Regions from separate parts of the Homo sapiens genome. Here region 1 is linked to region 2. The links come from fine-mapping of genetic effects on gene expression. A gene starts in region 2. The other region holds a variant in brackets. All regions are shown on one strand. Distances are from middle to middle.

Region 1 (5,000 bases), 52 kb after region 2:
CCAAAGTATAATGTACTAAATGTTAAATGTATTTATTTTTAGAAGAATTTTACATTCCTAAGCGTTGGAAGGACTTTAATGGTTGTTCAGTTTAGCCTTTTACTAAAAGCAAGACTCTCCTTGTAAATATTCTTTTGGTTTTGCTTGTACATTTCTAGTGGTGGGGCTGTATGATAGGCACTCCTTTCTTTTGTTGGCAACTTTATTACAGCTTCCTTACTGTTCTTCAGACTCACCAAGCATGCTTCTGCCTCAGAGCCTTTGTACTTACACTACTCTATTTCAGGAACCTTCTTCCAAATAATCCACATGGCACACTACCTCACTTTCTTAGCAGGTATCTGCTTAAGTTCTCATCTTCCATTCTAGGACTCTGTAATTCCTTACCCTCCCTGCCTCATTTTTTTCCCATAGCACGTATCACTCTCTCATGTGTTACCTGCTACACTAGAATTATGACCCCTAAGAGGGAAGAGACTATGTCAGTATCATTGATTCTTATTAACACCATTATTTAGAACCATGCTTGGCTTAAAGTAGTAGCTGCTCAGTAAATATTTATCTATGTGTGAATTTTTAAGTTCTTCCTTTATATTGAATTAAAATTAGTCTCTTGTGTGCAGCAGTCTGGGTTTGTCTTATGTTGAAATACTTATGTTGACTTCTACATACATTTCAGATTCTACTTCTGTGTTTACAAATATTTTTATGTAGGTATATGTTCGTATATGTCCCTCTAAAGGCTTAATATTCACATTCCTCATTTCTTTTTTGTTCCTCATATGACACTCAAGATTGGTGTCATTCTTAAAATGCTACCATCAGGACAGTATGTAGTATTATAGACGTGATTTGATAAATGTAGGATATAATAGACTTAATGTTCTTTATATGAACATATTCTTTAAACGCTGCCTGCAGTTACATTAATATAGCTCTGTCACATCAATCCTTTTTTGGAAAGGTGTGGGATAAAAATAAATATATTGAGTCTTAATAAACCTGTTAGGTCACTGTAATTTATGGTCAAATAACTTTTCATTTGCTTTAGTTGTGGATTTTAGAATATATTTTAGTCTTTATGTTGTGCTATCAATTTTTTGTCCCATTATTTTAGCCCGTTCATACCTTTTTTTCAAAAATTGTGGTAAAAGACATATAACAGAATTTTCCATCTTAACCATTTGTAAGTGTAGAGTTCAGTAGTGTTAAGTACATTCTTTTTTTTCTTTTAAACGATTGGCTCCTCAAAGCTGAACACTCACAATGTTGTGCAGCCAATCTACAGAACTCTTTTCATCTTATAAAATTGAAACCCTGTATCCATTAAGCACTAACTCCTCATTTCTCCCTCCCCCCAGTTCCCGGTAACTGTCATTCTACTTTGTTTTATGAATTTGACTTCTTTAGATACCTCACATAAGTGAAATCGTGCTGTATTTGTACTTTTGGGGTTTTTTTTTTGTTGTTGTTATTTACTGTTATTTATTTCTCTTTTTACTTGACTGTAGGCCACCAAGTTACGTATTTGTACTTTTGTGCCTGGTTTATATTACTTAAATGACCTCAGCATGTCTATTCATGTTGTATGTGGCAGGATTTCCTTCCTTTTTAGGACTGAATAATCCATTGTGTGTGCTTATGTATTTTTGAATCATAGTTTGTTATTTAACATACTAGTCATACTCTCTTGGTTTTGCAATGATCTATGAATTTTATAAGCAGGATTTTTTTTTTTTTTTTTTTAAAGCATGAGTTCTTGAGCATCTTTCCTAACCATTGGACTGTTATTTCTTTGTTCTGGCAGTAAACATAATGACAATATTCTTACAAGTGCAAGGCATTCTTTCATATTTCTTTTTCATTATATATTCCTTTTTTCTTATCTATACAGGTAGGGAGACAGGCAGTGTGGTAGGAAGAATGTGGTCTGGTTCACATCCTAGCTCTAGTTCTGGCACTTATTAGCTGTATAACTGGAGGCAAATTATTTAATCTTGTACCTGAGTTTTCTTTGCTTTTCTCAACTAGAAAATGACATTAATGGTAACTGCCTTGACAGGTTATTTTGAAGAGTAAACAAGATTGTATGTATAAAGTGCCTTGCCCGGTAATTAGCTTTAGTATCTGAGCTTGTTAGAGAGCAGCTTCTGTGTCCACGTTGGTTATTTAGATACCATCGCATTTTCCTCAGTCATTTTGTATCGCCTTAGCTGACTTGGCGGAAGGTCAGCAGGGAGGAAGTACTTACTATTCTTCTTAACTTTTGTTTCCTTAAGAATTTCTTTAAAGAGGCATAAATATCTTCCCTAAGAACTTTTACATTTTCATATTTGAATCATGCCTTTCTTCAGACCTGTAACCCCATGAGAGAAAATGATCAGAATATAAAGATTTGTCAATTAATTCTTATAGTCTTTTGTTTAATAAAGAAAATTATTTTTAAGAGATAGCGTCTTACTCTGGCCCAGGCCAGAGTACAGTGGAGCCATCCTAGTTTACTGCGCCCTTCAACTCCTGGGCTCAAGCCATCCTCCTGTCTCAGCCTCCTGAGTAGCTGAGATGATAGGTGCACCACCACGCCCAGCTAATTA[A/G]AATTTTTTGTTGTTGGTAGAGACAGGGTCTCACTTTGTTGCCCAAGCTGGTCTCAAATTCCTGGCCTCAAGCTCCTCCCATCTTGGCCTCTCAATGTGTTGGGTTTACAGGTGTGAACCACCGTGCCTGGCCAGTAAAATTATTAAGTGAATAGAAACATTCGTTAAATTATTTAAATGTTTGCCTGTGAGCAAGAGAGATTTTTTAGACCTTTCAGGAACATGTGGGAAACAATATCATCCAACTCAGAGTAAATTCAGTTACCAGTATTTTTTGGAATTCTAAAGTTCAGTAGCAAACATGCTTCAGATTTGTTGCTTTAAAGGCCTAAAAGTAAATTTTATGCATCCTTTTTTCCCCCTTGACTAGACTGCAGCGAGGCAAGAAACAACAGATTGAAAATGGTAGTGGAGCAGAAGATAATGGTGACAGTTCACACTGCAGTAATGCATCCACACATAGCAATCAGGAAGCAGGCCCTAGTAACAAACGGACCAAAACATCTGATGATTCTGGGCTAGAGCTTGATAATAACAATGCAGCAATGGCAATTGATCCAGTAATGGATGGTGCTAGTGAAATTGAATTAGTATTCAGGCCTCATCCCACACTTATGGAAAAAGATGACAGTGCACAGACGAGGTAAGTGTGTGGATTAGTTTCAGATTATCTAAATTCAGAATGTTTAATTTGGAGGTAAAAGGCAGTCTTGTATAAGAAGTAGGAGCAATATTTGTCATCCCATTGATTGCAGGGGTTCAGTTACTAGCTGCCTAGATTGTTGTTTTCTTCCTTCCTCCCTCATGTGCTTTCCACCCAAAATTGCACATCTGAAAGGAATGACTCTCCTTGGTAGAGAAGGTAAAGGGGCCTATTCAAATTTCTCAGCAATGATACTAGAGTACCAATAGGCTCTAAAACTCATGCTGGCAAGAATGGCTACGTTACCACTGTATCTCCAGCACACTGCTTGCTGTTGAGTACAGATAAGCATCAAATATTTATTGAATGAGGGATTTAATGATATATTATGTTTTAAAAATCCTCAAATTAACTTTTTTTTTTTTTGAGATGGAGCCTTGCTCTGTCGCCAGGCTGGAGTGCAGTGGCGCGATCTCGGCTCACTGCAGCCTCCGCCTCCTGGGTTCAAGCGATTCTCCTGCCTCAGCCTCCCGAGTAGCTGGGACTACAGGCTCATGCCACCAAGCCCAGCTAATTTTTGTATTTTTAGTAGGGACAGGGTTTCACCATGTTGGCCAGGATGGTCTCGATCTCTTGACCTCGTGATCCGCCTGCCTTGGCCTCCCAAAGTGCTGGGATTATAGGCCCAAGCCACTGTGCCCGGCCTCTTTTTTTTTTTTTTTTTGAGATGGGAGTCTTGCTCTGTCTCCCAGGCTGGAGTACAGTGGCACAATCTTGGCTGACTGCAACCTTTGCCTCCCGAGTTCAAGCGATTCTCCTGCCTCAGCCTCCCAAGTAGCTGGGATTACACTCACCACAACACCTGGCTAATTTTTGTATTTTTAGTAGAAATGGGGTTTCACCATGTTGGCCAGGCTGGTCTCGAACTCCTGACCTCAAGTGATCCACCTGCCTCAGCCTCCCAAAATGTTGGGATTACAGGCGTGAGCCACCACACCCGGCCCAAATGAACATTTCTATGGTTAGTCTTAAAAGACATTTTAATTCTTAGACAATAAGAAATTTGCTTCTATTCTGTTTCTGTTGCTGCTATAGCCAGCAGATTCTGGTCATTAGGGTTTGGGGGGTATGTTCCTTTTTTTCCCCTTAGTACTTTGTGTATTTCTGTTTGATTTTTGTCACTGTGTATCTCATTTTATAGAAGGTAAGGTAGGTAAAGCTTTTGTGACCTGACAGTAAGATATTGAGTATTTACTTTCCCCTCTTCTGTACCTATCAATAAGAAATTTAGATTGTAGAGCAGTAAATTTCTGATATTATTTTGTCAATAATTGAGACATTGCCATTTTACTTAGTTTTTAAGAAATGTATTAGTTCCATAATTTAAGTACATTTTTCTCATTGGCATATTCTAGAAATGAAATTTTTAATGATTTATTCTTCTAGATACATAAAGACTTCTGGTAACGCCACTGTTGATCACTTATCCAAGTATCTGGCTGTGAGGTTAGCTTTAGAAGAACTTCGAAGCAAAGGTGAATCAAACCAGATGAACCTTGATACAGCCAGTGAGAAGCAGTATACCATTTATATAGCAACAGCCAGTGGCCAGTTCACTGTGAGTATTTAAAATAATAGACTGTTGAAACTGGGAGCACACTGACCAACTAACTGAGTGGCAAGTGGTGGGGTAGAATCTAATAAATAATGTAAAAAACCGTAACAGTGTTAAGTGACAAGTAGTTATTCCTAAGATTTGAAAA
Region 2 (5,528 bases):
ACCTAGTGGTGAGGTCAGGGTGGCTGACGTTAGCATTGTTCACCAATGTCCCCACTTCTCTTTCTGAACTCAGTTCAAGGACTCAGTCCCTTTGCAGATGTGTGGGGCTGTACAACCAGTTCTGGGCAATGAAATGTGATCAGTGCTCTCTTTTCCAAGCTAAGGCTACGAAAAATTCACGGGGATTCTTTAGCCATTTTCTTCCTCTGCTGCAGAGAATAAGTTTCTGTGTTCCAGGGTGGTACAGCTACAAGATGGTGGTGTCTCTATCAATCTGGTTCCTGGAGTGACCAGAACAGAGTGAGTTGGATCCACATGAAGCATGAAGCATAACCAAACAATAACTTTTGTTGTGTTAAGGCATGTAGATTTTGGAGATGTTTGTTACTATACCATAACATAACCTTTCCTGATTAATATAGTCAGAGAAGATCCAGTGCCAAGTTTCTGAGTAAGAGATAAAATAGATAAAATGAGTTCCATTAATTTGTCAGTAGTGTTTTTCATATTAAGGATGTTAGCCTGAGGTCTAGCTTTTTAATCACATTTAATCCAGATATCCCATAAGTTTTCCGTTTTTCCACTAATTCTCCTGTGAGTCTTTTTTAAGCACTATATTTAACTTTCATCCATAAAGTTCCTGCGCTTTCTACAAATCATCACTTTTCTCAACATCAATTGAATTGCTTAATCTAACCACACATCATGATTTTCAAAGGCATTTTAATTAGAGCAAAAGTTCTAAATTATGAACACCTGTCTTCCTTTAATTGAACTACACATGCACTCGTCATGAAGGAAGAAGGGAGATGCTTCTGCAACTGCACTGTTTCTAGAAAGTGGACTTTCACAAGAAGGGAGAAGCAGAGCTTCCCTGATTATTTTGATTTTGTTGTTGTTGTTGTTTTGTTTTGTTTTGAGACGCAGTCTCGCCGAGACACCCAGGCTGGAGTGTCATGGCGCGATCTCGGCTCACTGCAACCTCTGCTTCCCAGGTTCAAGCGATTCTCCTGCCTCAGCCTCCCGAGTAGCTGGGACTGCAGGCGCGTGCCACGACACCTGGCTAACTTTTTTTTGTATTTTTAGTAAAGACAGTTTCACCATATTGGCCAGGCTGATCTCGAACTCCTGATCTCAAGTGATCCGGTGGCCTTGGGCTCCCAAAGTGCTGAGATTACAGGCGTGAGCTACCACACCCAGCCTTTTTTTCTCCCCCCACATTGGAGGAAGAGTTTAACCTTGAAGGGCTTGTAGAGTCAGATAACTGTCACTTGTTATTTAAAGTTATAGATAGTAGGCAAAAGCTTTCAAGCCACTGAAAAAGAATAATGCTTGTTTTCTTTGATGGATTGTTAGGTAGCATATATAATGTGCTGTATTTAACACCTGTCCTTTTTCTTTCCACCCATCCAAGGCGTCAAAGGCCATCTTAAATCCCGGCTCCTCAGGAAATCATCCCCAAACACACCAGCTGGAATTGATATTTTTCTTTTCCAAATTCCTATGTAAATTCATGTCATTTATTTGGAATTGCTTATAGAGAGTTTCAGAGCGTTAAAGAACTGGAAAGGACCTAGGATTCAATACAATTCTCTCATCTCGCAGACGAAGAAAATGAAGTGCAGAGGAGCTACGCAATCTACGTAAGTCACATAGACACACATTGGAGGCTATGAACCTAGTTTGCCCAATTCCCACTGCAGTCCATTGGTTTATGCCTCTATGCCTTCAGATTTACGGTCTGGTATTGCTGGTTATCTTCTCAAGAGAACATGACATCTCAACAATAGTACATATAGAGATCAGGGAACTTTCAATTCTTCGTTACTTCTTCAGCTCATAATTTATATGCATTAAATGTCGGATAATTTACTGGAGACTAACTGGCTGTGTTTTAGGTAATGATTACATCTATTAATCTATTACTTCGTAAATCCTCAAGTTCAGAAGGTAACACTGGAAGGGGCCAAGGAGGTAGGAATAAAGCAGCAGCAAGGTAAATAGTAAGAGCTGATGACCACAATCAGAATGTTAAGCTAAGTTTAGAGTGGAAGGTCATTTTCCCAGGAGCAATTACACTTGCAGTTTTATCCTGCAAGGATGAAAAGTGTATGTTTGTTGTACGAGAGCGGAAGGGTGCCGAAGTTCATGTGAAGTTCTGCAAACCAAAGCCTGATGAGGATTTCCGCCGGGTGGGACAGGTTTAAGAGGACGAACTCATGAGAAAGAAGTCTGAGCCCAAACCCCAGAAGCCGGCCAGGAAGGTGTAAAGGGTGGGCCGAAGCCAGGGCAGAAGAACCCAAGCAGAAGGTTGAGCACGAGGTGGCTGCGCCGTCATCCGGGCGTTGCCCGGGGGCTACGTCGGACCGCGGTGGGCGCCGGGGGGGCGTGGCCGGCCAGCCCAGGGCGGGGCGGTGGCGCGGGTTCTCCAGGCCAACACGCGGCGGCGCACCCTCCCTCGCGCCGCGGGCCTCCCCGCGCCGTGCACGTCCTCGTCCCGCGCCTCCGCCCCTCGCTCGCTCGCTCCTTCCCGCCCTCCCCGCAGCGCCGGCCGAGCCGGCTTCCCCTCAGTCTCTCATGAATATTGAGCGGCCCCTGTTGTATTTCCCGAGCTCCATTGCGGAAGCTGAGGCTCGCCATATTGTGCGGCGGCGCCGGCGTCCGCGGCAGCTGATACCAGAGTCTTGCTCCGGCCGCGGCCAGCGGAGCCCTGGGCTGGGGCAGGAGCCGGTGAGTGGGGCGGGCGGGGAGGCGAAGGACGCGGAAGCAGCGGGCCGGGACACGCGTCTACTCGGCAGCGTTGCAGGCGACTGACGGGGGCCCCGGAGTGTGGGGGGGGTGTGTGTCCGCGGGGGTGTGAAGGGACATGGCGCCGCCGCCGCCCCCGGCCGCTCTCGCGGCGGAGACGGCGGGTGAAGCGGGTTCTCATTGTTCCCGTGTCTTCGAGGGTCGTGGGAGGGAAGGGAGCTGGTTTGCGGAGGACCCAGTCAGCGAAGCGCCGGGATTCCTTCCTTCGCCGCGAGCCTTTCGCTGCCCTTTCCTCTGCGCGGAGGCCGGCGCTGCGGCGCGGTCCCCTCGCCTCCGGGGGCGGGGGCCCCAGCCTCTCTGCAGCCCTACTCCGGAGGCGGACGGAGTGGAATGCGAGTTTTTTCTCTGGGCTTTCGCCTCGCAGCTAGGGATGTGTGTCTGCATCGTGGGGGTGGGGTAGGGGGCACTTTGTGCAGATATCGCTCCTTCCTTCTGGGGGGTCGGAGTCGGGGTTCCAGTGTAGAGGAGCTCCTCGACCTCGGGGTTCCTCGGGGAGACCCCTTCAGCTTCACACATTCCTGGAGTGCCGCCTCCTGCTCTGGAGTATCTGTTGCTGCTTTCTAAAACCGTGAGCTTACCCAGGAGGAGTCGTGGGGGGAGGGGGTGTCTTGGTTAGTTTCTGCGGGAAGATTCGCGTTTTGAACCGTGTCGTTTACGCTGAGATGCTAGTACCCACTTTTGCCGGGAGCCCACGTCCTGCTGGTCAGAATCGTTTACCTTCTACAGAAGTCTCCTTCTTGCTTTCAGAGATGGTGTTAGTAAAAATTGATCTCAAACTTTGAGGTTCATTCCAGTTATTTGCCCGCTAAGATCAATTATAGACTCATCTATTTGAAGCCCCTTTGGGTATCTTTTTCGAGGCTGTCGGAAGTTTTAGAGAATGTAACTTTACATTGTAAAATGATTTGAAGATGTCAGGTTTCTTTGAAGTGCCGTGAAAAGGATATACATATGCACTCAGTATTTTAGTAATACGCTGTTTTTCAATTAAAAAAATTAAGGCATGGTTTCAGTGTTCTAAACCGAGGATATGTTTAAAACGAATGTACGAGCGATTTGCATTACATAATCTACTTTTGGTAATTCCAAGATGATCAGCTGGAATACTTAGTCTAATTGGTAGCTAATCTATCTGTTTTGTATTAAGTGCAGTTGTTGAATATTCTAATAACTGAGGTGGGTGTGAGAGTTTGCTTCTTATAGTGAAATTTGATCCTTGGATTTATAAAGTATTTAAATAGCAGCAATATGACTCTTGGTTATTCCCTTTTTCCCCTGAAATTTCTACTTTTCACAATCAACAAGTATCTTTAAAAATCTTGATTGTACTCTTAAACTACTTTTTAGCAAAATAATAGGTAGTTATAGGTGACTCCTTTTTCTAGGGGTAGCACAGCAAATATGGTCCCTCACTTTTTGTAAGGATTGTAGTTATTTTCCTCAGGTATCCTTGTGGCATCCACATTTGAGGTTAATTATAGTAGAGGCAGATTTACGAAGAAAAATTGCCCGAGTCAGGCCAATCCGTTTGAGTATTTGAAAAATAAGCTAGTTGTCCTAAAGTGTGTTGCATAGAAAAATTTCCAGTTACAATCACTAACATAATGTAGACCATGCAGACTTTCAAAATACTGGGAATTTGGAGTTTTTCTCTGCCTGTGTGAAGCTCCCAGGTTTGAATGGATAGAAATATAGACCAGGTCAGCAAACATGTTTGGAATTTTATTAGTGACCTACAGTTTGTGGTGTCACGTCTGTGTCTCTAATCTGATTTATTCATGATTTGTGTTTATATTATGCAGACTTTGGAGTAAAGGTGATATATATGCCTAATGAATAATATATAACCAGATGTTTCAGTGACAGTTTCATTTCTATACATTAGCAAAGAAGCATAATTTCTTCCAGCAAGAGAAATGAGTTAATATTAAAACGCACTTTATTAAAATTATGGCAGTGTTTCTAGTATGACTTAAAGCGCTTCATAATTTTGAAATGACTCATTAAATTCTGGATAAACTAAAAATCCATCACAGTTTGCAGCTTTTAAAAGAAAAATAAGAGATTATGTACTCTGCGCACGTACACATCTACAATTGGTTTTTAATTCGTGTTATTGCACACACTGTAGAAGACATTGTCATCAGACAATGGTTAATTTCTCGATTGATTCATTTATTTGACATCTAAGCTGTCATAGTAACTTAGTGTTTATTTGCATTTAATACTGAGTAGGTGCCCATATAATTTGGGGTACAAAGGTATAATAGCATTTACACAGTCCATTCCTTAAGGGTCCAGATATCCTGACTGTTTGCCTACTGGTCTTCTACCCTTTCTACCTAATGTGTCTACTGGGTCTTCTGGTATTTCTTGGGGGAAGCGCAGTTTGATTGGTCTTACATAAATATTTTGACTGTGGTCATGGGACTCTTGGCATTTAAGTAGAAGCTAGTGTTAGTGTGTTGCCAGGCAGGAGCTAGGTGATGAGTCCCTGACTATAGGTGCTAAGAGCGTAGGTGTGACCCATTATCCAGTTTTATGTTGTGTGGAGCAACTCCGGTAGAATTGGCCATGTTCTTAATTCTCCTTTGCTTTACGGTTTTTAGACAGCTGAGGCAGAGTGGTATGATTAGGCTTAGTTATGTATCTTGTTGGATGCTCAAGGAGCTATATACATTACTAAAAATTCTAAGATTTCTATTGCTTAAATTTACTTC

The links. PIP is the estimated chance that this variant, and not a neighbour inherited with it, causes the effect. A credible set is the group of variants that fine-mapping cannot tell apart.
Region 1: its variant is the best candidate, but not a certain one, in a credible set for the expression of RNF2 in monocytes after LPS (Quach 2016, PIP 0.68).

The regions. Positions count from the first base shown.
Region 1 is chr1:185,095,108-185,100,107 of GRCh38, forward strand. RNF2 (ring finger protein 2) reads left to right here. Exons shown (of 7, transcript NM_007212.4): 5 at 2,965-3,237; 6 at 4,684-4,855. Among named protein-coding and RNA genes, the nearest start is that of RNF2, 52 kb to the left of the region's middle. The variant A/G (reference allele first, on the strand shown) is at 2,595.
Region 2 is chr1:185,042,920-185,048,447 of GRCh38, forward strand. RNF2 (ring finger protein 2) reads left to right here and starts at 2,639. Exons shown (of 7, transcript NM_007212.4): 1 at 2,639-2,730. RefSeq lists a silencer at 2,269-2,528.